Linked DNA regions of Homo sapiens. The protein of the gene in region 1 purifies or fractionates together with the protein of each later gene. This does not show direct contact. Each region holds a gene or a part of one and is shown in the gene's direction. Other genes may lie near its edges.

Region 1 (5,842 bases):
TATAGAAATTACTTTTAATTCTAATATAATAGTTAAAAGATAAAAATTTGATAATGGATACACAATATAAAAAGAAGCAAACTGACTACAAAAGCACAAAGTGTGGGTGGGGGAAAGTAAAAATGTAGAATTTTAATATGCAATTGAAGTTAAGTTGTTAACATAAAATAGACAATTATATCTACAAGGTATTTTATGTAAACCTCGAGTTACCCACAAAGAAAAAAACCTATAAAAGATACACAAATATAAAGGGAACATAAAAATTGAAGAGTTAAAGGAAATCACTACAAAAATCATCAAATGACAAAGCAAGACAGCAAAAGAGGAAGAGAGGAACAAAACAACTGCAAAACAAATAACAATTATTGCTATATTTGATATTATTGCAAAAGGGTCCTCAGCTACCAATAATTACTTTAAATAAAAATGGATTAAACTACCCAATCGAAAGGCAAAGAGTGGCAAATAAATTAAAAACAACAAGATCCAGAGATATGCTGTCTGTAAGAGATCACTTTAAGACACACGTAAGATGAAACTGAAGGGATAGAAAAGATTTTCATGCAAATAGTAAACAAAAGAAATCAGGAGTAGTTATACCCAACAAAATAGAATTTAACTAAAAAACTGTCTCTAGAGACAAATAAGTCATTACATAATAATAAAAGGGCCAACTCAACAGGAAGATAAGACAATGATAAAAATATATGTGCCCAACTTGAGAATATATAAATATACAAAACAAATATTGACAGTTCAGACAATATTGACAGCAATATAATAATAGTAGGAGACTTCAATAACTGACTTAACATAATGAATAGAACATTCAGACAAAAATGAATAAGCAGTTTACCCGAACAACACTGCAGACTAAGTGGACCTTTTCACCCAATAGCAGCAGAACACCCATTCTTCTCAAGGGCACATGCAACATTCTCCAGGATAGATCCCGTCCTAGGTCACAAAATAAGCCTTAACACATTTAAGGAGATTGAAATTATTCCAACTATCTGGTCTGACCACAAAAATTAAACTAGAAGTCATTAACAGTAAGACAACAAAAACATTCAGAAATACATGGAAACTAAACACATTTTGAATAATCATTGAATCAAAGAATCAAAAGGTAATTTGAGAAGGATTTCAAGACAAATGAAAACAAAAACACTACATACCAGCACTTATAGGAATGCAGTACTAGAGGGAAATTTGTAGTGATAAATACATTAAAAGAAGAAAGATCTCAAATAAACAACCTAATTTTACACCTCAAGGAAGTAGGAAAAGAGCATAAAACATAAAACACTGATGAAAGAAATTGAAGAGGACACAAATAAATGGAAAGATATCTTATGTTCATGGAATGGAAAAATAAATATTGTCAAAATATCCAAATTATCCAAATCTACAGATTTCATGTAACTTCTATAAAAATTCCAATGTCACTCTTCACAGAAATAGAAAGAAAATCCTAAAATTCATGTGGAATCACAAAGGACCCTGAATAACTAAAGCCATCTTGACCAAAAAGAACACAGCTGTATGTATCACACTACTGTATTTCAAAATATATTACAAAATGATAGCAATCAAAACAGCATGGTTCTGGCAAAAAAACAGACACATTGACCAATGGAGTAGGATTGAAAGCCCGTGTATAAAACTACACTTCTGTGGTCAATTGATTTTTGACAAAGTGCCAAGAATACACAATGGGGAAAAGATAGTCTCCTCAATAAATGAGGTTGGGAAAACTGGGTATCCACATGCAGAAGAATGAAATTTCATCCTCTTCTTACACTACATGCAAAGTTAAATCAAAATAGATTAAATATTTAAATGCAAGACCTGAAATCATAAAACTCTTAGAAGGACACATAGGAAAAGAGCTTCTTGACACTGGTTTGGGTAATGACTTATAGAAAACTACACCTAAAGCACAGGCAAAAATTCAGCTAAATAAACATAGACAAATGGGATTGCATCAAAATAAAAAGCTGCAAAGCCAAGAAAACAACCAGCAGAATGGAAATTGGGAGAAAATATTTGTAAACAACATATCTAATAGGTGTTAATTTCCAAAATATATAAGGAACTTTGGCTGGGTGCCCTGGCTCACGCCTGTAATCTTGACATTTTGGGAGGCCAAGGCAGAAAGATTGCATGAGCCCAGTAGTTTGAGACTAGCCTGAGCAACATAGTGAGACTCTGTCTGTACAAAAAATAAAAAAAATTAACCGGGTGTGGCAGTGCATGCCTTTAGTCCCAGATACCTGGAAGGCTGAGGTGGGGAAGATTGGATCATCCTTCCTACCTTGAGGCTCCAGTGAGCTGTAATGGTGCCACTGCGCTCCAGCCTGGGTGGCAGAGTGAGACCCCGTCTGAAATAAATAAATACAAATAATAAAAATACAAGGAACTTATTCAACTGTAGTGCAGAAATAAACAAAAAACATAAATAACCTGATTTTAAAATGGGCAAAGGACCTGAATAACATCTCTCAAAAGAAGACAAAAATCGTTCATGAAAATATGTTTAATATCACAAATCACCTGAGAAATGCAAATCAAAACCACAATGAGGTATCATCTTACATGTGTTAGAATGGCTGTTACCAAAAAGATGAAGGATAACAAGTGTTGGCAAAAATACAGAGAAAAGCAGCTCTTTCAGTCTGTTGACAGGAATATAAATTATGGAAAACACTATAAAGATTTCTCAGAAAATTAAAAACAGACCTACCTTATCCAGTAATTCCACTTTTAGGTGTATATGCAAAGGAAATGAAACTAGTATTTTGAAGAGATATCTGCACTCCCATGTTCATTGAAAATTATTCACAATAGCCAAGACATGGAAACAATCTAAAAGCCCATTAACAGATGAATGAACAAAGAAAATGTGGTGTGCATACACAATGGAATATGATTCAGTCTTAGAAAAGGCGATTCTGCCATTTGCAACAACGTAGATGGAACTGGAGGACATTATGCTATGTGAAATGCTCCAGAGACAGAAATACATATATTGTACGATCTCACTTACATGTGGAATCTGAAAAAACAAACCCACAGAAGTAGAGAGTAGATTGGTGGTTGCCAGGGTTCTGGAAGGGGAAATGGGGAGATATTGGTCAAGGGGTATGAAGTTTCAGTTATGCTAAGTGAACATGCTTTGGAAACCTAAGGTATGGTAGTATGAGTATAGTAAACAATACTGCACTGTATACTTGAACTTTCATGAGAGGGTAGATCTTAAGTGTTCTCACTACACATGAAGAAATTGAAAACAGGAATTATGTGAGGTGATAGATATATTTTAAAAGAAAATATTTTTACTTTCAACATGGTCTCATAGGGACTTCTTTTTGATGTTGGTGTTAGACAGGACTCACATATGCCTCGGGTATCTCAGGGTGGCAGACAGACTGTAAAGTGGCCCTGCCTGTCCCTCAACCCTGGTGTTGGGCCTTTGTGTAACCTCCTTCTTTTGAGTGTTGTTGGTGACAGTGACTTGCTTCTAGCCAATAGACTATGGCAAAGGTGATAGGCTGTCACTCCAATGATTGTGTTATGTTATTTAAGACCCCATCTTGTTAGCAGACTCCCTTTAGAGACTGCTGACTTGACGTGAGTGGCCATGCTGAAACAGCTTACCTGGCAGAGACTGTGAGAGGCCTCTAGGACCAGAGAGCAGTCTCCCACCAACACCCAGGAAGAAACAGGGGCTCTCAGTCCTGCTTCGGAAGGCCCCTCAACCACATGATAATGAATTCTCTCACTGGAAATACAAAACCCGTTTACACCATTATCATTTACATCTCAGGATTCATGGAGGATCTAAGTAGAGATCTGGATGGAGAGGTAGACGAAGTGTTTGATTTTGAAGCGATTTGTGGGCAAAGGCAGTAAGGTAAGCATGGATGTGTAACAGGGAAGTACTGAGACAGAATTCTTTGATGTCACTATTTTTCCTGTGTATCTCCTATACTTGTCTCTATATTTAAAGTCTTAAGAATGTTCTGATGGGAAGAGGAGTGTTCATACGGCCTGAGGATGGAACTCAGTCACAGAGACCCAGAAAAATCATAGACATTGATACTAACCATGGCAGCATGCAGGAAAACTGGACAAGGCAAATTAGGGTAATTTGCAGGCCTAGTGGTAACTGACACTAGGATAAATTTGCATCCTGTCTGAGCCAAGAGCACACCTCTCCTCTTTAGCCTGAGCATCCTCCTCTCTAAGTGAGCTCTGGTTCAGATGCAGAGCCTGACCACTCTTTAGCACTCCTAGGAAAGATTAAAAACAGGACTGTGGCTAGGGGCAGGGAGGAGGCCAGGGACCAAGGCACTCAAGTGGGGACTGCAGGAGGGGTCAGAATGCAAGCAGCACTGACGGCCTTCTTCGTGTTGCTCTTTAGCCTGCTGAGTCTTCTGGGGATTGCAGCGAATGGCTTCATTGTGCTGGTGCTGGGCAGGGAGTGGCTGCGATATGGCAGGTTGCTGCCCTTGGATATGATCCTCATTAGCTTGGGTGCCTCCCGCTTCTGCCTGCAGTTGGTTGGGACGGTGCACAACTTCTACTACTCTGCCCAGAAGGTCGAGTACTCTGGGGGTCTCGGCCGACAGTTCTTCCATCTACACTGGCACTTCCTGAACTCAGCCACCTTCTGGTTTTGCAGCTGGCTCAGTGTCCTGTTCTGTGTGAAGATTGCTAACATCACACACTCCACCTTCCTGTGGCTGAAGTGGAGGTTCCCAGGGTGGGTGCCCTGGCTCCTGTTGGGCTCTGTCCTGATCTCCTTCATCATAACCCTGCTGTTTTTTTGGGTGAACTACCCTGTATATCAAGAATTTTTAATTAGAAAATTTTCTGGGAACATGACCTACAAGTGGAATACAAGGATAGAAACATACTATTTCCCATCCCTGAAACTGGTCATCTGGTCAATTCCTTTTTCTGTTTTTCTGGTCTCAATTATGCTGTTAATTAATTCTCTGAGGAGGCATACTCAGAGAATGCAGCACAACGGGCACAGCCTGCAGGACCCCAGCACCCAGGCTCACACCAGAGCTCTGAAGTCCCTCATCTCCTTCCTCATTCTTTATGCTCTGTCCTTTCTGTCCCTGATCATTGATGCCGCAAAATTTATCTCCATGCAGAACGACTTTTACTGGCCATGGCAAATTGCAGTCTACCTGTGCATATCTGTCCATCCCTTCATCCTCATCTTCAGCAACCTCAAGCTTCGAAGCGTGTTCTCGCAGCTCCTGTTGTTGGCAAGGGGCTTCTGGGTGGCCTAGATGGCATGGTTTCCTTATCTAGACCCCCGGAAAAGAAAGGTGAGGATGGCAGAGCTGTGGCCCACTGACATGGAGGTGTTTTCATAGGTAGATGAATACTGGGTACTGTTATGGGGCTCCTCCTCTGGGAAGCGGAGGAGACAAGGAAATCTGGGAACTCTCTGAGCATGCTTCCCTTCTTTGGAATGTTATAAAGATGCAGTCCCATGGATCCCAGAGAGCCAGTATTGCCCAGAAGTTCAGAATATGTTAATATGATGTCGTGCTACTCCTTACGTTTGTACCCCTTTGTTATCTGGAAGGCTTCGATTAAAAGTGTTGATTAACTGTGCCATCGCATCTCCACTGCCTTTCAGAAAGTTAAGAGCAAATATTTGCCTCTATGGCTGAACTGAGATGTGGATAGTGAAGCGACAGCCTTCTTGAGGACAAATGTCATGGTTACTACGAGAGCCCCAAGGGACAGGCAGTTGTGGCAGGCAGTGGCCTGGGCTGTGAGTTCTGATTGCCCTTTACTGCATGAAGATACT
Region 2 (7,031 bases), on another chromosome or scaffold:
TGCCAGTGCCTATGTGAAAACCTAATTGAGTTTTTAATGCATGAAATGACTTTGGATTTCTTTCTTTTTTTATTTTTATTTTTATTCTTTTTGAGACAGAGCCTTGCTCTGTCGCCAGGCTGGAGTGCAGTGGCGCGATCTTGGCTCACTGCAACCTCTGCCTTCCGAGTTCAAGCGATTCTCCTGCCTCAGCCGCCCAAGTAGCTGGGACTACAGGCACGCGCCACCACGCCCAGCTAATTTTTGTATTTTTAGTGGAGACGGGGTTTCACCATGTTGACCAGGATGGTCTCAGTCCCTTGACCTCATGATCTGCCTACCTTGGCCTCCCAAAGTGCTGAGATTACAGGCGTGAGCCACCATGCCCAGCCTGGATTTCTTTTAGTATGTAATGTGTTAACTTAAAACTAAGGACACCATATAGTAAGGAAATTAGGCCTTATTTGAGCAGCATATGATTTTTTAGAGTAATTATAGTCTTGCATTAAGGCAGAGTGGCTATGACATGAATAGTTTAATATTTTGTAATTTTTTTCTTCTTGAGATAAGAGTCTCGTTCTGTAGCCCAGGCTGGAACACAGTGGCATGATTGTGGCTCACTGCATTCTCAAACTCGAGGACTCAAGTATTCCCCCCGCCTCAGCCTCCCAAGTAGCTGGACTACAGGGTACTACTATACCTGGCTAATTTTTTATTTTTTGTCAGATGAGACTTGCTATGTTGCCCATGATGGTCTTGAACTCCTGGCCTCAAGTGGCCCTCCCCCTCTCAGTCTCCCAAAGTGTTGGAATTACAGGCATGAGCCACCTCACCCAGCCCTGCAATTTTATTTATTATTTTCTAAATGTTGCTGCTCTCCCGAACCCCTACTGACTACCTTTTGCTGTTGAATTTGCTATGTGGAAAACCATTTTATGTTCCAGAATTTGGGCTTTTAAACTATCTTACAGTTACTGTCTCATTCTGGTCTTGAGAAAAATTTACAGTTTTACAGGATCTGATTGAAATTACTCTAATTCACAGGGCAATTTTATATGGATGGTGGCACTTAGAATGCAAGTTTCCCAATCTCCATTTATCTTTTGGTTTGAGGATAGTGTTTAAGACTATTAGGATCACTTGATTAGTATCTCTGGGCTTTTGAAAATAATTACACAGTGTTATGTTTTTAAAAATTGTTCTAATGGGTAGGTACAGCAGAGAGCACCATAAATGATTAAAGGTTTAGGAAAGTTCAAGGTCTGGAATTATTTAGGCATATTCAAGAGAAGGCTGAAAGCAAAATTCAGTCACTGTTTATGAAGTTTGTGCTGTAATATAACTTTAATATTCTGGAGATTTTTAAGTTAATCAAGATCTATTTTACCTGGAGACCACTGTTTTGAACAGGAATGGAATTAGAATCTTTCTTGAGCTCTGACATAGTCCTCAGTTCAAAGAATAGATTTAACATTTCCTAGCTGGGTAAGATACAAAATCAAAGCTCCACTTCCCCTCTGTGAAATAGGTGTGCTAATAATAGTACCTACCTCTTAGGACTAAATGGGATAAGGCACATGAATCTTTCTAGCACAGTGCCTGGCACATAATAAGCACGCAAAATTTAGCTCTTTCTAAAGATAGACATTTTCTAAATTAAACGTCAGTGATCAACTACATTTTCTGTGTGTTAATGTTTAGTTGAGTTACTAAAATTGTTAGATTTTCTTGTCAAGAAACCTACTTGTCATGGAAGTATACCTTCATTAAGCAAGCATGGTATAAAAATAAGCTATCTTATTTGGTACTTAACCAAGTAACCTTTGTGTATGTATTTATTTTTTCGAGACAGGGTCTCCCTCTGTCTCTCAGCCTAGAGTGCAGTGGTGCAGTCACAGCTCACTGAAGCCTTGACCTCCCAGGCTCAAGTGATCCTCCCAACCTCAGCCTCTCTACTAGCTGGGACCACAGGCGCATACCACCACACCCAGCTAATTTTTAAATTATTTGTAGAGACGAGATCTCACTATGTTGCCCAGGCTGCTCTTGAACTCCTGGGCTCAAGTGATACTCCCACCTCAGCCTCCAAAACTGCTAGGATTATAGGTGTGAGCCACCATGCCAGGCTCCAAATAATCTTTTAAAGTTGAGCTTTATTAAAGCATAAAGCTGAATAATAACGTTGGCTGATAAAAATTTTGACAAGGTGCTAAATAAATGTAGCATCTTATCTTGACAGTGCTTGCCGTTCTAAACTTGTATATGTTTTTTCCTCTGGGTCAGTCATCTAATCTTAAATTAGGAGTCATTAATATCCAGATTGGAAGCTGAGAAATAAATTTTAAAATCTTAGACTTATTTTTGGGAATTATAAACATGTATTATTGAAGGGCTAAAATATTAATAGTATTTTAAAGAATCGGGGGGTCGGGCACGGTGGCTCCTGTATGTAATCCCAGCACTTGGGAGGCCAAGGTGGGAGGACTACTTGAGCTCAGGCGTTGCCACACAGCCTGGGCAACGCAGTGAGACCCTGTCCCTACAAAAATTTAAAAATTAGCCAGGCATGGTGGCGTGTGCCTGTAGTCCCAGCTATGTGGGAGGCTGAAGTGGGAGGATTTCTTGAGCCCAGGAGGAGGTCAACACTGCAGTGAGCCACGATCATACCACCGCACTCTAACCTGGGTGACACAGTGAGACCCTGCCTCTAAAAAAAGCAAAGCAAAGAAAAAAAAATCAGGGCATTTTGATGCCAGAGGACATCTGCAGAATCTATGTAGCTCTATCAATTGGCCAATGAGATGTTGTCTGTTACACATGTTGCTGCCAGCTACGGCTGACTTTTCCAGGATCTCCATCAAGGAGAAGCATGCTATTAGCAGTGAAGATTCTGTCCTTATCTAATCCATCCCCAGAATGGAGAGTGGGGGAGGAAGACAGTGGCTATTTTAAAGTAGTCCTGTTATATTGAGTTTTTAGGGATTCTGTTCTGTTAAGGGATGTATCATTTGAGTATCTTTTATGTGCAAAGCACTGTGCTCTATCTATAAAATTTAATCTTGAGGTAACCAAGCAGAGTAGATAATATTCCTGTAGAAGCTGATCAACTGATCCTCATCTCTTGTCCTTTCCTCATTTTAACTCCAGTCCTGAACTGGTATCTCCCAATTAAGCTGAGTTCTTTTGTATCCAGGCCTTTTGCACACACTTCCTCCTCTGTTAAGAACAGGCTTCCTTTAAGAGCCTCATCTGGTTACTATCACTTATCCTGCAGGACTCAGCCTTAATGTCCCCTTTTTAAAGATTTTGCTGATCCCTTGACTCTGGACCAGATTTCCTTCCTGTGTGCCCTGGTAGCTTTGTTAGGAATAAATTTGTTTGCTTGTCTTTGGCTTCCTGTAAGTTCCTGTGTCACCCATTATAAGCTCTTAGAGGACAGGGACTGTCATAATCACCCTTACTCAATATCCAACACTGCTTGGCACATAGTGGACACTTACAAATAAATGAAGTTTAAGAAAGTTAACTTCCCCAGGGTCACAGCTATTAAATGGTAAAACTGGGATTTGAACCTAGATTTTCGGACCTTCAGAGCCCGTACTTTTGTTTGAGACAGGGTCTCACTCTGTTGCCCAAGCTAGAGTGCACGGTGGTGCAATCTGGGCTCATTGTAGCCTCGACCTCCTGGGCTCAGGCAACCCTCCCAACCTTCGCCTCCTGAGTAATTGGGGCTACAGGAGCACGCCACTATGCCTGGCTAATTTTTTTGTATTTGTAGAGACAGGGTTTCTCCATGTTGCCCAGGCTTGTCTCAGACAAGGTTTTACCATGGTTGCCCAGAGCCCTCACAGAAAATTCATATCACCTGAGGAGCCTTTGAAACCATTCAGGTTCTCTTTTACTGGGGTGGGGTGGGGTTTGGGCAGTGGCGGTTTTTTTTTTTTTCTTTGAGACGGAATCTCACTCTGTCACCCAGGCTGGAGTGAGGTGGTGCAATCTCAGCTCACTGCAAGTTCCACCTCCTGGGTTCATGCCATTCTCCTCCCTCAGCCTCCCGAGTAGCTGGGACTACAGGTGCCTGCCACCACGCCTGGCTAATTTTTTTTGTGTTTTCAGTAGAGATGGTGTTTCACCTTGTTAGCCAGGATGGTCTCCATCTCCTGACCTCGTGATCCACCCACCTCGGCCTCCCAAAGTGCTGGAATTACAGGCGTGAGCCACCAAGCCCGGCCGGCAGTGGTGGTTTAAAAAGCATCCCAGTAAGGGCACTTATATGCAGCAAGGATTTCTCCTGCTGCTTATCATGCTATCTGTCTCACTGAGATAGATAGACAGTAGAGAAGGAAGAGAAATATACATAGAACCACAATGGTTGGTAGCTTTGATGGGATTAAAAAAATAGATTCTAAAATAGTAAAACATAAAATGAATAGCAGATCTTGGCAACAGAGAGGAAAACCAGTGACATTTGTCAAAGATAGAAAACTTTTTGGAGGGGAGGCATTTAAATATTAACTGAAAGCATACCAATCTCTACAGCTTAAGTTTTTGGGAGGAAGGGGAGACACAGACTACATTCAATCAAGCCAGATCTTTTTGCCCTTGTCTTGCATCATCCATGTCTATATCCCTGTATAATAATCATGAAAGTAAGCCAGAAGTAAAAAAAAAAAAAAAAAAAAGACATATGTATTCATTTAAGAAAGGAATTTTTTGGAGACAGGTTCTCGCTGTGTTGTCCAGGCTGGTCTTGAACTCCTGGGCTCAAGTGAGCCTCCTACCTCAGCCAAGTAGTTGGGATTACTGTTGCATGCCATCAAGCATGCCTCAAAAAAGGAATCTTTATAAATATTGTCACTTTATACCTGTAAAGGGGAAAATCTAAAAAAGTGCTTTGAGCTATCCTGGTGATCACATGCAATAGACATTTTCCTCTCCTGCTCACCTTTATCATCATGCTTATCTCACCCCTTCCAGAAAGTAGTAGACTGTTATTATTAGATACTTTGATGTTTGTACCATGTTATGCTGCTTTCATGTAAATAGAGCCAGCAATTTCTTGAACATCAGATAAGAAAGATGGTGTCCAAAAAAATCTTGGAACTGCTATTTTCTTTTTTCCAGAAGTTTATTCTTAGGGCCGGGTGTGGTGGCTCATGCCTGTAATCCCAGCGCTTTGGGAGGCTGAGGCGGGTGGATCCCTCGAGATCAGGAGTTCGAGACCAGCCTGACCAACATGGCAAAACCCCATATCTACTAAAATACAAAAATTAGCCAGTGTGGTGGTGCATGCCTATAATCCCAGCTACTCAGGGGGCTGAGGCACAAAGATTGCGTGAACCTTGGAGGCAGAGGTTGCGGTGGGTGGCAGCGCGACTCTGTGCCAAAAAAAAAGAGAAAAAGAGAAAAAAAGTTTATTCTTAAATGTGCAACAGGCTCCAAGACATTTCATCCTTTGCTTCCTAGAGTGGAAGCAGAAGATTTTATAGTAGGAAATGCAGATATTTAAATAGGAATGGGATCAAGGGTCATCATTGCCTCGGACACAGTGGTTTGTTTTTTGGTTTTTGTTCTTGTTTTCCAGATTTCTCCCTTCTAAGTACTAACCAGGCCCAACCCCGCTTAGCTTCTGAGATCAGACGAGCAATTGCATTCAGGATAGAATGGCCATAGACTTTTGCCGGATTTCTTAATTCCACCTATCCAGGGAACCCTTCCCTGTGGCCTTTGCTTTTAGCTCCTCAAGTTTTTTCTGCTCCTCTTCTTGTTTCTGCTTGAAATCCTTGTCTTCCTCATACATCTCCTTGGCCTGTTTCTCGTCAGGGGCTTCTTGCCGTAGGTGCCTGTCAGGAAGCTGGACGTGGTGCCTGCCATCCCTTCCTTAGACCCAGCACAGGAAACTGGAACTGCAGTTTACTGTTTTGATTCCTTAGTTAAAAGACAAAGCTTTCAACCAAAGTTCTACTTCATTTTTTTGTTTGTTTGTTTGTTTTATTTATTTATTTATTTTTGAGACAGTCTCTCACCCTGTTGCCCAGGCTGGAGTGCAATAGTGCAGTCTCAGCTTACTGCAGCCTCTGCCTCCCTGGTTCAAGCAATTCTCATGCTTCAGCCTCCCAAGTAGCTGGGAATATATAGGTCGTGCACCACCATGCCTGGCTAATTTTTGTATTTTTAGTAAAGATGGGGTTTCATCGTGTTGCCCAGGCTGGTCTCGAACTCCTGGCCTCAAGTGATATGCCCACTTCAGCCTCCCAAAATACAGGCATGAGCCACCGCGCCTGGCCACTACTTCTTTAAAGAAATATTTAACTGACAACCTAGGAATTTGGAATGTGTTAGTAAAATGTGACGTTTGCTATAGCTTGCCAGAAAGGTTGTATCAGGTAGTATAGAGTTTGGGCTGTTCTCAGATAAAGAGGATAATTTTTTGTTTTTTTGGTTTTTTTCTCCACATGGAGAGGTTTCAGGTACAGTCCAGGGTTAGTATTGTGGCTTGACTATCAGCTTCTAACATCATATTCACATTCTAGCCAAGGGGAATGTTTATTTCTGCCCTTGAAGGACACAACCAGGAAGTCGTATTATTTCTGTTTCTGCGCATTGCTGTACTTAGCTACAAAAGAAGCTGGGAAATTTAACCAGGTGGCCATGTGAAGAAGGGAAGAGTAGACACTGTTCTTTGCTTTGCCACATTAACAAATGGTTGTGGTTGGCCCTTCTAGGATATGGCTTTAAGCTACACTGTGATCATCTGTTATTTCCTTTTTTTGCTAATGCCTGGAATTTCAGTTTAGAGTAAGTTCATTTGATTTGCAAGAAATAAAATTGTACTTTCATTAGTTTGGAAGTCTTAAGTGAGTAAGTTTTGATTCTTTCATGATAATTAATTTTGTTAAGTTGAGAAAAAAGGCAAGCATGAAGACATGGCATATCTGATAGGGGTATACCTTGAGATTGGGCTAGAGATTCTAAAGGTAGTTGATTAACCTTTTTTTTTTTCCTTCCAAGGCTGCTTAAAACTATTTTGGTTTTACTTAGGACCACCATTG
Region 3 (7,031 bases), about 99 Mb from region 1:
CCCTTTCACCCTTTGTATGAGCCATTTCCCACTTCTTTGTCTTGGATGAGCAGTTTTCCTTTTGTTCCATCCAGAGTGTCTTGCGCTCGTTCTGTGGACGAGCCCCAGCAGACCTGAGCCAGCACTCACTATGGGTGTATGTGGCATTGCGAGGGTCTGTCATGTGGACACAGCCATAAATGGTTGTGCATTTCTGCCTGACAGTTTTTGCACACTATTCTTCTAGTGCAGTTCTTATAAATGTCCTGCTTCTTGGAAGTTATTGGGACCTTGAGAGCAGGACCTGCCTCTTGTTTTTCCATTGCATTCCAAATTATGCATTCACCAAAATGTAAAATTGACTGTATCCTGTGGAAAAACCCCCCAGAAAATTCACCTGTTTTGGTGAGCCAGGTAGCAAACAGATGGAGCTTTCATGGTGATGATAATTCATAATTATCAGTATTTGTGCTCATTTATAGAGTGTTTGTTACTAGGGATGGGAGGGAAAGGAATGAAACCAAGAAGCAATGTCTACTTAATGTATAAGCCCAGAGGTCACTTTCCACTGTGTTGGGGACAAGGTGATAAGAAGTAGGCAATAAATACATTTTGTGTTTCTTAGCGTTCAGGAATTCATGACCTTCACGAGTCAACTGATTGTGGAGCGCTCATCGAAAGGCACTAGAGCTTCTGTCAAAGAACAAGGTAAGAAGACCCTCCAACTTCTGTGCGTGTGCTGGCCTGGCTGCCATGCCTCACCTCACATAGCACCCAGCTTTCTCCTTTCTACTGGGACCCTACTCCTCCTCTAGCTTGTTCTCTCTTTCCCACCTCTTCCTTTTCCTATTTATGCAGAATTCTGTGCCCACTGTTGAAGTCTGAGCTTCCCAGATAAAATTGCCCTCAAACTTAGACTCATTTAAGATTAGGGTCTGACTCTTTTGGAGCAGTAAGCAGCCTTCATATCGTATTCTTCCCTATCCTCTTCAGAGTTGCAGACCCCTCAAAAAAGGATTTCCAGCTAGCACTGTTGAGGTACTATATGTATTCTGTGCATCGTAGATTTTTTGATCAGGAATCTGAAAAAACTATTTTTTCTTTCTGATAATTCAGGTTTAGGCATTTATTTAGATGTGTATGTTATACAGACAGATCAGGAAAGAGTTACATGAGTTTCATCAGGTAGGGACAAAGATCATCTCACACTTATGCTAACCTCAAGTCACGTGACATAGAGTTACTGAATTGATGATATAAATGTCAGTTATGATACAGGCAGGATTGACTATATACACTTTATGTGGGATCTCTGTGCTATTAACATCATAGAAGTGAAATCGCATCACAAATATTTCAGTGTTCTTGCTCTGTTCTTCAAACTGTGCCTGCCCTTCCCACGTTTATTACTTAAAGACAATTCCTCCACTGACCAGGTTCTCAGTTTCTTTGGAGGGTATGCACTTTGACCCCATGTTTGAATCTTAATTGGGGATGGTATACAAAATCTGGAGAGCATTGGTGACAACCCCCTGTCCTCTTCCTCCTCCTCATTCTTGTTCTCATTTATCTCTGCTCTTTTCTGATTTCAGGGGCTCACCATCATTCCCTCCTCTTTTATTTGTTTTTCTGTTGTTTAGCATTGGAATCTTCTGGGTCAGATCCTTAAGGACAAGAAGGTTCTTATTTGTAAGCTGTAATCCTTACATTTCTCTTTCCTTGGGGATATGGTTAGCTGTATCAACTCTGAATCCTTTCAAAGTGATGGAAATGAACAATCCTGTGGATTGTGAATATTTTGCGGAAGACCTGTACAACTGTACCTTTCAATCATATGAGGATTTTAGCACAGTGCTCTGGAGGCCTTAGCTGGCAGTAGCTAATCTTTTTCTAGACTAACCCCCCTACTCCCAGTCACCCACCAGAGTGGAGCAAACCCAGCAGGTTGCTATAATATGGAAGACTGAGGCCCTGGGGGGTAATTTCCTGTCTTTTGGCTGCTCTGAAAAGATTTTTTAAGAAAGCAGAGGCCTCTTGGCTTGTCCAGGGTTCCCTAAGTTTGGGAGCAGCACAGAGCCCCAAGGGCTCCAGATCCCTAAGATATAGCTTGGCCTGACCCGAGCTTAAGGAATACACTTGGAAATGCTCCTGGGGCCATGTTGTCAAGGGTGTGTTTTCTGCACCACTGGCTGTTTCTTTAAGCCCTGGCTTTGCATACTGGGCCTCTGGGTATTTACTGGTCCTAAAGCAGGCGTTGGGCCAAGCTCCTGTGTGTGGCCCATTGGGCTGTGCTGCTAAGCCTCTCCACAAGACTTGCCCAGAGCTATTGAGCTTCCGAGTGGCTTCATTTGGCCTAACATTGGATGCTTTGATTTGGGGGGATTAAAAGAAGTCTGAAGCCCTCATGTCAGCATCCATGTGTCTGATCTCTTGTCTCCTTAGACTATCTGTGCCACGTCTACGTCCGGAATGATAGTCTTGCAGGTGTGGTCATTGCTGACAATGAATACCCATCCCGGGTGGCCTTTACCTTGCTGGAGAAGGTGAGTTTTTTATTTGCCTCTCCTGGACTTGGATGATGAATGGGCACATTTATGGACTGGGACAGGGGTTGATGGCAGTCCCTGAGACATAAGGGATGAAATGATGTGTCCAAAGTCAACACATTTTTCAGCCCCCTTCCCTGCAACCCAAGAGACAATTTGGCATCCCTGTATGGGTTTCCTCCCCGGTGCTGTCCCTCATGTGAGCTGGGTCTAGGCCACTGAGTCATAGCATCTATTCTCTGGGATGGGACCCTCGGAGACAGCTGTGCCTTGTGTTCTCGCCCCCTGTGCTTCTGCTCAAGGAGTCTCCCTCTTGAATGCCTTCACTCTCCCCATTGCCTCCTGCAGTTGCTGCATCCCTCTACCTTGATGTCAGTCAGTTGCACCACAGAGCTTAGCACCTAAGCATTCTTTAAATTTTTTTGCGTACGGTGCTAATTACTAATATTAACTCTTTGAAGTCAGAGGCTTCATCCTATACCCCAGAGCACCAAAATACCTCCAAACACATGGAATCTGGTGGTTTCTTAAATCTAGGGGACCTAATTCTCTTTTTTAAAAAATTGCTTTGGAAAATTAGAGGACCAGTGCCCCTTTTTTCTGGAAATCTGTAGTTTAAAATTCAAATACCTTTATTACTCCCCAAGTGAGGTTCATCTCGGGCTGGGCATACTTTTGATTCTCAGAATATTTAGGATATGTTTTAATGATAAAAATTTGGAAAGAACTTTAGCCTAGATTTTCTCTGTTGCCATTATATGTCCCCCTCATTCCTCCTTCCTGGGCTGTGAAGGCCAAGGAGCCTCATTCAGGGTGAGGTGCTCAGGGGTGAAGCCCTGTCATTGAGACCACTGGTGAGTGCACAGTGGGAGGCTTGTTGAGTCTCCTTTGTCTTGCAGGTACTAGATGAATTCTCCAAGCAAGTCGACAGGATAGACTGGCCAGTAGGATCCCCTGCTACAATCCATTACCCAGCCCTGGATGGTCACCTCAGTAGATACCAGGTAGGGTTAAAGGAAGCTTCAGCAGACACCATGTGGCCCAGAATCCATGTGAAACTGAAAAAGCCAACTGCCCTGATAGTTCTGGTCTAATTACTTCTGACAGCTTCTGATGCTGGTGTCCTCTCTCAAGCCTTACTGTTTGGAAAACAGAGAATCTACGTTCAGACCGGGGAACCCAAGCTCTAGGCAGGCTTTGGGTTTCTGTTACATGTTAAACAGGCTGTGGGTTTTTTTTTTTGTTTTTTGTTTTTTGAGTTGGAGTCTCACTCTGTTTCCCAGGCTGGAGTGCAGTGGCGCAATCTCGGCTCACTCAACCTGCACCTCCTGGGTTCAAGCGATTCTCCTGCCTCAGCCTCCCGAGTAGCTGGGATTACAGGCATGTGCCACCACGCCTGGCTAATTTTTGTATTTTTAGTAGAGACGGTTTCACCATGTTGGTCAGGCTGGTCTCGAACTCTTGATCTCTGGTGATCCACCCGCCTCATCCTCCCAAAATGCTGGGATTACAGGCGTGAGCCACTGTGCCCGGCCCAGGCTGTGGTTTTTAACCTGTGAAAGTTTGTCCAGCTTCCTCAGTTTTAGGTTTTGTTTGCAGGTAGCCACTCCAGTCCTGACTTTATTATTTTTCACTCTTTCCTAGAACCCACGAGAAGCTGATCCCATGACTAAAGTGCAGGCCGAACTAGATGAGACCAAAATCATTCTGGTAAGCAGGAAGATGGAGAGCAAGCCCAAGAACTGAGGCGGGGGTGCGATTTCCACTGGCCAGGCATGCACAGATCCATCCTCGTTTTAATATAATAGTAACCACGGCACTCTCCAGCAAGTGGGATTGCCCACCCCTTCCCCCACCCCGGGCATCAGACTGTCTTTCCTATACCCTTCTCTTGGTTAATGGCACCCATTGTTTCTAGGGGACCAAGCTGGGAACCAGTGGAACCCTCAAGTCTCCCTTCCTCATGGCTACTGCCTGTCTGACCATTTACTGGGTTCCTAGGGTTTGGCTTCTGAAGACCTGGATTCCCACCCTGGTGCCTTTGTTAGGGTTTCGGGTGCCTCCACACCCCACAGGTGCCTCCCCTTGCAGCGTTTGCATTGAAGGTGAACAGATTGAAGCACCGTGCACTGACCACAGGGCAGCTTCTGGAATATGGGCCCAGGGTTGTCACATAGGCCCCTTTGAAAAGAGCCAGAACCCTGCATTTTGAGCTGAAATCTCCTGATTTGTAACTGTTGCTTCAACTCTTTTTTTTTAAATTTTTGCATACAAGTGGAATGTAAGCAGCTATCTGTTTTTCTCAGGTTTTTCTCTTACAGCCTTTGCCTCTAAGTGGTCCCCTTGCCTCCTGCTCACCTCCAGTCTGTCCACCAGAGAGTAGTCATTGATCTGCACAACTTAGAACCCTTCAGCAGCTCTCAGATCCGCCCCAGGATAAAGTGCAAACTAACTCACAGTCTCCTGACTGGGCCCTGTTCTCTCTTATACCCTTTCTTGCCCAGCTCACACACAGGCGCCTGAAGGTTGGGCCTTTCTGACCAGATGTCACAGTTTTGTCACTGCTTGTTTACATGTCTCCCTGACCAGCGTATGAGCACTGGGACATCTTTCCATCCTGCTCATGATACAGTGCCTAGTTTATACCATGCTCAGCAGTTGATAGATACCTGGAGTGGATTGAAACCCACATACAAAGCTTTACCATTTACACAGGCATAGCTTTAGTGTGTACATCAGCGTCTCCTGGGGTTGGAGTTGTTGGCCTGCGATGGAGCCTGGGAACCTGCATTTTATAAAAAGCATCCCAGGGGCTTCAAACACAGGTGTGCTGACTGCACTCCAAATAACGTGGCTTTGGAATGAACGATAGATGTGAAAGTCTCATGGTATCTGTGTCTTTTGAAACCTTGTGAGCTTTCTTACCACCTAGGTGGCATTTCTCCGTTTTCTCCTCAAGCCATCTCTTTCTGTTGCTCAAGTCCTAGTCTGAGTACCATGACACCTGGGACACCCGCTGTTTCTCCTCTCCCCACGGTGGGGAGTGGATGAGTCCTATTCACCCAGCCTCATCTAGCTGCAGTTGTAAAATCTAGATGATTGGTGTGCATATCTGAATCAGTTAACTTTCTGTGTTAAAAATTTGAGTCGCTCAGCTGTGTGTAGGGATGAAGGACATTCTTGCTGGCTCCTTGTTCTATGGCGCTTCATGTGTGCATCTAGCTGCTGCAGCAGTGGCCATCTGAGGAGAGAAGCGAGCTGCTGCTTCCTGAGGGCCCTGGCAGCAGAGCTGCTGGCTCTTGTGAGGTCTCCATCTCTAGACCCCTTCCCATGGGGTCAGTGTTTTCATTTCCTAAGTCAGAGTTTGTAGTGATGACATTTAGGACATAGCCCATTTAGAAGGCAGGACATGTTCTGTCATAGTGCTGTCTGGTATATATTTGGGGCATGTGTGTAACTTAGAATTTTCTAGGAGCCATATTTTAAAATGATAAAAGGAAAATAGGTAGAATTTAATTTAATTATATATTTTACTTAACGCAGTATATCCAAATACAATTTTTCCAACATGTAATCGGTATAAAACTTGTTTTTTTTTCAGTATAAAACTTACTAATGAAGCATGTGTGAGTTTGCATCTGAAATCTGGTGTGTCTGTACTCAGAGCGCTGCTCAGTTTGGACTTGCCTCACATCAAGTGCTCAATAGCCATTTCCCACCGCCTTTTGTTTCCTGTGGCTGCTGTCAACAGAAACCCTCAAATATTTGCTTTTAACAGATAGCTCTGTGGGCCTGGCTGGTGTCTTTTGGGGCTCTGAGTGTCTGTCCCAGGCCTCTCTCCAGCCTCTGGTGGCTGCTGGCCATCCTTGGCATTCCTTGGATTAGAGGTGCATCACTTCAGGCTCTGCCTCTGCCGTCACGTGACCTTCTGTGTGTGTGTTTCCGTTTCTTACCAGGACATCAGTCATGGAATTAGATGCCACCCTAATCCAGTATTACCTCTTCCTAACTAGTTACATCTGCCAAGACCCTATTTCTAAATATGGTCACATTCAGAGATTCTGGGGATGTTAATTTCTGGGATGCGGTTGGGGTTGGGGGGTGCGGTGTGGGTCACTCTCCAACCCAGTACAATCATATAGTGCCCAGCTACTCTTTTTTCCAAAGCTCCATGCACACGCACATGTGCGTGCACACACACACACACACACAAATGTATATATAAATGTGTGTGTATATATATATATGAGTTTTCCTGGAGTGCTGGTTATCTAAGCCTGTGCTGGGGACAGCTTTTTGGGAAGTCTGCTACATCCCAGTTAGATCTTCTAGATTTCACGGGAATGTCACCAGGTTCTGTTCCATCCACTTGGACAGTAACTATTCTTGGACCGAGTCTCGACACCTAGAGGTGAAGTTTGTGTGTGTTGGAGAGGAACCCAGGTAAGGCACTTTCCCCCATGACTGAAATATGAGGGGCTCATGTCAGGGCACGTACTGAACAGA

Evidence for each region. Proteins that work in one complex are often made in the same cells at the same time.
Region 2: the proteins of TAS2R41 (region 1) and SNX3 purify together in Homo sapiens (affinity purification with mass spectrometry; 3 studies listed by BioGRID and IntAct, with this or other methods). This does not show direct contact.
Region 3: the proteins of TAS2R41 (region 1) and YKT6 purify together in Homo sapiens (affinity purification with mass spectrometry; 3 studies listed by BioGRID and IntAct, with this or other methods). This does not show direct contact.

What each region holds. Positions count from the first base shown.
Region 1 is NC_000007.14:143,473,485-143,479,326, forward strand, and holds TAS2R41 (taste receptor type 2 member 41), read left to right. Parts: upstream 1-4,388; coding exon 4,389-5,312; downstream 5,313-5,842.
Region 2 is NC_000006.12:108,251,024-108,258,054, reverse strand, and holds part of SNX3 (sorting nexin-3), read left to right. Parts: intron 1-7,031. UniProt on the Homo sapiens protein: Phosphoinositide-binding protein required for multivesicular body formation. Specifically binds phosphatidylinositol 3-phosphate (PtdIns(P3)).
Region 3 is NC_000007.14:44,203,964-44,210,994, forward strand, and holds part of YKT6 (synaptobrevin homolog YKT6), read left to right. Parts: intron 1-604; coding exon 605-687; intron 688-2,421; coding exon 2,422-2,522; intron 2,523-3,424; coding exon 3,425-3,529; intron 3,530-4,169; coding exon 4,170-4,235; intron 4,236-7,031. UniProt on the Homo sapiens protein: Vesicular soluble NSF attachment protein receptor (v-SNARE) mediating vesicle docking and fusion to a specific acceptor cellular compartment. Functions in endoplasmic reticulum to Golgi transport; as part of a SNARE complex composed of GOSR1, GOSR2 and STX5.